Homo sapiens: one gene and its partner. The protein of the gene in region 1 interacts with the protein of each later gene in a biochemical or structural test. Each region holds a gene or a part of one and is shown in the gene's direction. Other genes may lie near its edges.

What was found. The genes of interacting proteins can lie anywhere in the genome.
Region 2: the proteins of RAD18 (region 1) and POLK form a complex in vitro, tested with the Homo sapiens proteins (one study listed by BioGRID).

Annotation. Positions count from the first base shown.
Region 1 is NC_000003.12:8,897,325-8,901,103, reverse strand, and holds part of RAD18 (E3 ubiquitin-protein ligase RAD18), read left to right. Parts: intron 1-2,056; coding exon 2,057-2,210; intron 2,211-3,779. UniProt on the Homo sapiens protein: E3 ubiquitin-protein ligase involved in postreplication repair of UV-damaged DNA. Postreplication repair functions in gap-filling of a daughter strand on replication of damaged DNA.
Region 2 is NC_000005.10:75,577,630-75,581,408, forward strand, and holds part of POLK (DNA polymerase kappa), read left to right. Parts: intron 1-2,926; coding exon of another isoform or gene 2,927-2,968; intron 2,969-3,579; coding exon 3,580-3,779. UniProt on the Homo sapiens protein: DNA polymerase specifically involved in DNA repair. Plays an important role in translesion synthesis, where the normal high-fidelity DNA polymerases cannot proceed and DNA synthesis stalls.

The DNA of each region.
Region 1 (3,779 bases):
TTCCCTAGTGACTAATAAACAATTTGTGCATAAAGTGCTGCCTCAGTATGTAACTCATGGTCATTGAACAACTCGAACTTGTTCATGCAGTTGTTAAAGGATATTTCTAGAAACTAGTTTAGCACTTGAGAAAATCTGACTGAATATTTCCCATTAAGAAAAGTTTTTTTAATTAGTTGAACCTCTCTTGAATATCATTGATGGCTTGTATGTATTTATGAACATCAATATTACTCTTTCCGGGGTTCAGAGGTGATTGCTGCTTTTAGATTGCTGTGCATGAATGAGATGTCTGAGAGGGTAAGGTATGTGAGAGAGATGAAGACAGACACAGACTGACTGAAAAGATGGATTTTGTATAGCATCATACAACCAATATAATTGTTGCTCTTTAGAACATTGAAGTGCTCATGTAAGTGAACAAGTTGCATATTCTCTCAAGTGAAAACTTAGCCTGTTTTTGTTGTGTGTCTCTGGGGAGCTCTGATGTCTGAGCCTCACTCTTCGGGGCTCTATTTTGGAGTCCTGCATTCTGAGATCTAAGGGCAAGTAGGAAGGATAACTTATTTTTTATGCCCACAGATTATTGAATGCTGTTTGTTCCCAAGAGGGAATATATCTTCTAGAAGTGTATGTAAGAGTGGAAGAAGTAAGAAAAGAATACAGACAATGTGCAAAAATAAAAGATTGTTTTAAGTTGAATTCCTGTTCCCTGGTTTGCTAGCTTGCTTGCATGCACCTCACTAGTTGAGTAATATAGTCCCTGGGTGAACCGAGTTGACTGGGGGATTGGCTCCTCTTAATGTGATTCTGGTATCTGTTTACAAGAGGAGTTCCTAGAGGTTCAGGATGGTCATCCTGGCTAAATTCTTTTTCCCTTTTCCAGATATACATTAGAGGGTGCTGTTTTGTTTTGCTAATGATAGTTTATTGACAGCCAGATGACATTAGGAGCATATTTTTAGGAATTACACTCTTGTGAAGTATGCTGTTCTCTCAGTGTAACAAAAACTTAGAACTATTTCTGAAAAAAATTTAACTGTATGAACTTGGCAAGGTTTTTTGAAGAATTTGTTATGTTCTTTCCCCATAAATTCTCTCTGTATAATCAAACCTTGACAATTGTATTTTTAGTGTGCTTTGTTGAAGACCACTTGCCTCTACAAGTGCTTGATGAGTGATGTGTGAAAGCTCTGTTTCTCTGTGAGGAAACACATGAAAGGAGCTCTGTAGTATTATTAGCACATGTAGCTTGCATGTGAGGTACCTCCTCAGTTCCTGAAAGTTAAGGACAGCACAGATGAAAATCCCAGCAGCGTTCATGATGAGTGGGAGAATCCTGGGCACTAAAGAATCTTTCACAGATATTCTTCCACTCATATTTGTAGAAAATTGGCCATACCCATATGCCACATTTTTGTAAACACTGCATCCTTCCAGCTTTTTGGGGTCTTTATTTTTATCTGCAATAAGAGACCTTGAAATCTGAGAATATGACAAAGAATGCACGGAAATGTGATGTGTATTGGATCAAATGGAAATATTCCTTATGTCTGTTTAGTTGTCCTTTTCCATAGAGAATAATTAGATTCTAGTTAACCTAGAAAAATGTTTAGAAAAATGTCCAGATAGATTCACTATCATATAATAGTAGCAAATATTGTGGTTGTCTTATTAGTTGAATCTGTAGTCTTTTTTTGGTTATACTTCTTATGTTGGTTTGTCAGTGTTCTCTGATCTATGAAATATGCAAGAATTCCTTAGTGATATGTTAATAGAGGCCTCATTAGAATTACAAGATTCTTCCTGCTTCTGGTTTTAAAATAAATTTTATTTTTAAACTAATTAATCTTGGAAAAACATGGGCTGGACAGTATAATTAGATAGCACCATTGTAGTGTTAATTCTTGCTCTCTGGCTGTCACTAGAGTTCTGGAATCTATGTGACATATACTTCAACTTTACTAAGTGCACATGGCAGTATTAAGTGTTGCAGAAGTAATAGGCATACAGAAGTTGTAGATTTTAAGGTACTCTTAAATTTATTTTTTCCTAGGACAGGAAGATAATATGACCTCAGTAACAAACCACTTTTCTCAATCAAAGCTGGACTCCCCAGAGGAATTGGAACCTGACAGAGAAGAGGATTCTTCTAGCTGTATTGATATTCAAGAAGTTCTTTCTTCATCAGAATCAGATTCATGCAATAGGTAAGAAACATGCAGTAGTTGATTATTTTAAATATCTACTTCATATGCACATGTAGATAGATAGGCAGAAATAATTAGAATGTAGCTTTGAGGCATGGCATGGTGTGTCACTCTTACATTTCAGTCCCCTTTTACTGCTGGGTCTTCTTCACAGTGATAACAAGGCAGGATTTGGGAAGGTAGTGCAGGGATCACAGGGTGAGTTTGGTCTCTACTCTATAGCCTTTATGTAGATACTTTTCCTACCGTTGGAAAAGAAAGCATGATAGACAGTGAAATTTTTGTCAAGACGATGAGTAAAGGAGATAAAAACAACTATATTGGAAAACAGAAATGATCAGAAAGACATGGCGCATAGGAGGGTTAAGAAATGAAAAATTTAACTGAGTAAATAGAATAGATGGGGAAACTTTAAAAATGAGAAGTTTGGTAATGAGTCATTTTGAAAAGATATTTTAAAAAATATATAGGGTTTATTTTACACACACACACACACACACACACACACACACGCATGCACACACACATACCAGTTTTTGTTCCGGTCTTTCACTTAATGTTATGTCATAAATGTTACGTTTCTATAGGTTGGCACAAAAGTAATTGAAACCACAGTTACTTTTGCACCAACATAATAGCTTATGTTTATAATTGTTATTTTTTAATGAGTACAGTATTCTGTTATGTCTCTGCGCTATAATTTACCAGACCCTTCAGTTTCTGTTAGAGCTCTACATTTTTCCCAGTGTTCTACTTATGTACCTGATGCTATGGTAAAGCTCTTCCTTTGTTTCTATTGAATACTTTTTTTTTCATTTTTTTGAGACGGAGTCTCACTCTGTTGCCCAGCCTGGAGTGCGGTGGTGCGATTTCGGCTCACTGCAACCTCCACCTCCCAGGTTCAAGCATTTCTCCTACCTCAGCTTCCCAAGTGGCTGGGATTACAGGCCTGTGCCACCACGCCTGGCTAATTTTTTTTTTTGTACATTTAGTAGAGACAGGGTTTCACCGTGTTGGCCAGGCTGGTCTCAAACTCCTGACCTCAAGTGATCCACCCACCTCGGCCTCCCAAAGTGCTGGAATTACAGGCATGAGCCACCGTACCTGGCCACTTATCTTTATTATTCTGATATGTAGGCATTGCCCTCTGAATGAATTGTACTGATTTAAAATGCCTACCTATCAGAATCATTGCTTATTGCCAGTGTTATTTAATGACGCTGAAACTTAGTCAAGAGAGACACCCATTTGATTCTGGTAACTGATACCATAGAAATCAGGAAAAGATTCAAACTTAGAAGGGACTACCAGTCAAGACCAAATTCCTTTAGTAGCATCATACTATGTGGTATTTATTTATCTGGTCCAACTGGGCGTTCTCAGGGTGGGGTTAATGAGTATATTACATAGATTTGGCCTTGCTGTGCTGAAGACATGCCAGTCTTGTCACCAGCTTCATACTCAACCCCTCAGATTCTGTTATCAAGGACGCTTGTAATCAAATTGAAGCTTAAGTGGTAGAGGAAATTTTCATTTTGGGGATGTTCCTTGTCTTTCACTTCATTTTTC
Region 2 (3,779 bases), on another chromosome or scaffold:
TTTGCTCACAACCCACAGGAACATTTCATGTGCACCACTCATTGCTTCAGACGGGCCAGGCAGTGCTGGGGAGACCTGTTTGTAACTTTCCCTGAAGCAAAAATGGTAGATCCACAATGACATTAATCTAACTCTCTCACATTATTTGTGACTCACATCATTTGATGCAAGTTTAATATGGGCATCAAATACAACTTCATTACCTTATTTAAAGTGCTAAGGGATAGCTCTCTCTTTTTTTTTATAGGAGCATTAAACAATAATCATCATTTCTCGACACAGGCACAGAGCAAAAGGTTTTCCTTATTTGGTGTAACTTTATTGTTTGAGGATGTGGAACATAAAGCCTGATGTCACTTTGTATAAAATCTTACTTTATTAATTCCTTACTTTCACAAGAGAATGGGGGAAAATCATTAAATAATTATGTCAAAGCATCCCCTGAGGGCCTCCCATAACAATTACTTGCATGATGTGTTTTAAAAGCTTTACATTGGGATTAAAGTAAATGTTTTCATTTTCTACTAATTTTTTTCTTTTTTTTGAGATAGGGTCTCACTGTGTTGCCCAGGCTGGAGTGCAGTGGTGCAGTCTCAGCTCACTGCAACCTCCGCCTCCTGGGTTCAAGCAGTTCTCCTGCCTTAGACTCCCAAGTATCTGGGATTAGAGGCGCGTGCCACCACACCCGACTAATTTTTTGTATTTTTAGTAGAGGTGGGGTTTCACCATGTTGGCCAGGCTGGTCTCAAACTCCTGACCTCAGGTGATCTGCCCGCCTCGGCCTTCCAAAGTGCTGGGATTACAGGCATGAGCCACCACGCCCAGCCTACTAATGTTCTTTTCATTTATTATAATGTCCAAACTCACTATGAATATGTGAATTTTTAATATCTATTGCTTTTAACATATTTACTTGTATATTGCCCTCTTCGTGTATTTTCATATTCTTAAACAATTGGAATAGTTAAACTTTTCTTCTCATGTGTAAATACCTGTGGGCTGGACTTTCAGGCGTGTCTCACCTCACATCATGCCATGGGAAATTGTCAATAGTGCATTGGAACTGTGGAAGGCAATTGATATATCTTCCTCTAAAGTCCAAGACATTGTTTTGCTGTTTCCCCATTTTCTAAAAGGTGTTTGTCTTTGGAAATATATTGCTAACTACCATCTCTACATACAAATAAAATAATAATTTTTTAAATGTTTACTCTCCCATGTAAATCTGGATGGTGAGTGCCAGATAATATAAGAAACTGAAATACCATACACTTTTTAGCACTTGTCTTCCAAATGAAATGCTTTAATCCTAGTGTTACATTCTGATTACCTTAGTTATGGGGATTATAAAGATGTTTCTGTCACAAAGCAAATAAGAAACTACTTCAGCTCTTAGTTACACAGCCAGGCCTCACAAAAAAGTAGAAAGTAGTTCAGATTGAAAAGGTACCTGAACATTCTGCAGCAGCTCTGATAATGTGTGAGAAGGCAGCATTCTTCACTTCCTGCTGTATAGTTCTGCTCTCACAGTGGCTCACCTGAGGGCAGGGTGGTAGAGGCATGAGGTACAAAACATGGCATAAAAAACTCTGCAGAACGGGTTTATGAATGTGGCAGATAACTTACTTGGTTTGCAGTTTTTCTGTAGCTTTCTTTACCGTGACTTCTACCCATCCAGATGGGGAAAAGGGCTCCAGGTAGATACCATTTCAATTGTTTCACAGTCTTTATTTTTTTTTTATTTTTTTTTATTTTTTTGAGATGGAGTCTCACTCTGTCACCAAGGCTGGAGTACAGTGGCACAATCTCAGCTCACTGCAACCTCTGCCTCCTGGGTTGAAGTAATTCTCCTGCCCCAGCCTCCGGAGTAGCTGTGCGCCACCATTCCTGGCTCATTTTTGTATTTTTAGTAGAGATGGGGTTTCACCATGTTAGCCAGGCTGGTCTCGAACTCCTGACCTCAGGTGATCCTCCCACCTCAGCTTCCCAAAGTGCTGGGATTACAGACGTGAGCCACCTTGCCTGGCCTGTTTCCCCTCTGAATTGTTCTACATTTTAAAACCAGCATATTAAAAAATGACAGGAACTGAAGCACATAAATATCAGCTAATGTAAGTTTGAAAATAAGGCTTATTGGCGAGGCAAGGTGGTTCACATTTATAATCCTAGCACTTTAGGAGGCTGAGGTGGGAGGATCAGTTGAGGCCAGGAGTTTGAGACCACCCTGGGCAAGATTGTGAAACCCTATATTTACCAAAAAATTATAAAATTAGCTAAGCGTGATGGCTCGCGCCTGTAGTCCTAGCTATACTCCAGCCTGGGCAAGAGGGAGACCCTGTCTTAAAAAAAAAAAAAAAAAAAGAGAGAAAGAAAATAAGCTTATTGTGTATGTGCCCTGGGAATTCAGATTTGGAAAACATCTGACTGAATTAACATCTATGACTTACTTCACACTACATATTTTAAATTTTTAAATTAATCAGATGTCTGTCATATTTATTTTATATTATCTTTAAAATTTTTTCCTAAACAGCCAAATACATTTTTCAAGTAATATACATTCGTATGCATCTTAAAACTAGAAATTTAATTTTTTCTTCTGTATTGACCTTAATTTGGAAAATATTTATATGTAATAAAATTACGAGATGGGATCAGAAAGCTTTGTTGCTAACCTTGGTTGTTATAAATACATTTAAATTGTATTTCTTCTACATTAAGCCAAGAAAACAGGCTTTAATAGATTTGTTCATGGAGACATTTTTAGTATCAGTATAGATTTAAGAATATTTTACAGTCCATTTATGAAAAATATAAATATAAAGAGGCAATAACCAGACTGGTATTTTTACTTTACTTTGTAATAATAGTTTATAGCCTATTAATAATAACGTCTCTTTTTCTTAAACTTGGATTATCCAATCAGACCTTCAGAATTTGTATATTCAAAGAAGCATAACTTTCACAGGTAATTTCTATTTATTACAAATGTGCCCTTAGTCAAAGTGATACTTTATAAACAAGCAAATCAAAATTAAAATCAGCATTTGAAAGAAGAAAATTCAGATTATTTTAACATCTAAAAGGTTTCTTCCATAAATGAAGAAAAGTTAAGTGTTTTTCCTTCTAAAAACAAAACTTATTTTCAGTATAATTATTATATATTGTTTATTATATTCTAAATTCTAATTTTCGAAGATTCTTTTTCTTCCTAAAGAAGAATAAAGAAAAGATTTCCTTTTTTTTTTTTTAAGAAAAAGGTAATGTGAACTGAAACCTAATTCTGAATTTCAATTAATTTAGGTACGAACATTAGTGAGTTTTACATAAGATATTTCCTTTTAATATTTATACTGTGGAAATGGATAATAGTCTTTTTAAGAAAAATTCATAATCAGTGTTCTCTTTAATGGTTATAAAACATTAAATGATAAATGATGGCATTTCTGATCTTGGATCCTAGAAACTAAACTAAACTAGATTTTTGTTTTTGTCTTCAGAAATAATGTAGGGAAACCTAACTTATGAAGTATATACTTCTTAAAATAAAGGTGAGTTATTTTCCTGTTTATGACTTAGATAATCCAGGAAAGGAAGTTAATAAACTGAGTGAGCATGAACGATCCATCTCTCCACTACTTTTTGAAGAGAGTCCTTCTGATGTGCAGCCCCCAGGAGATCCTTTCCAAGTGAACTTTGAAGAACAAAACAATCCTCAAATACTCCAAAACTCAGTTGTTTTTGGAACATCAGCCCAGGAAGTGGTAAAGGAAATTCGT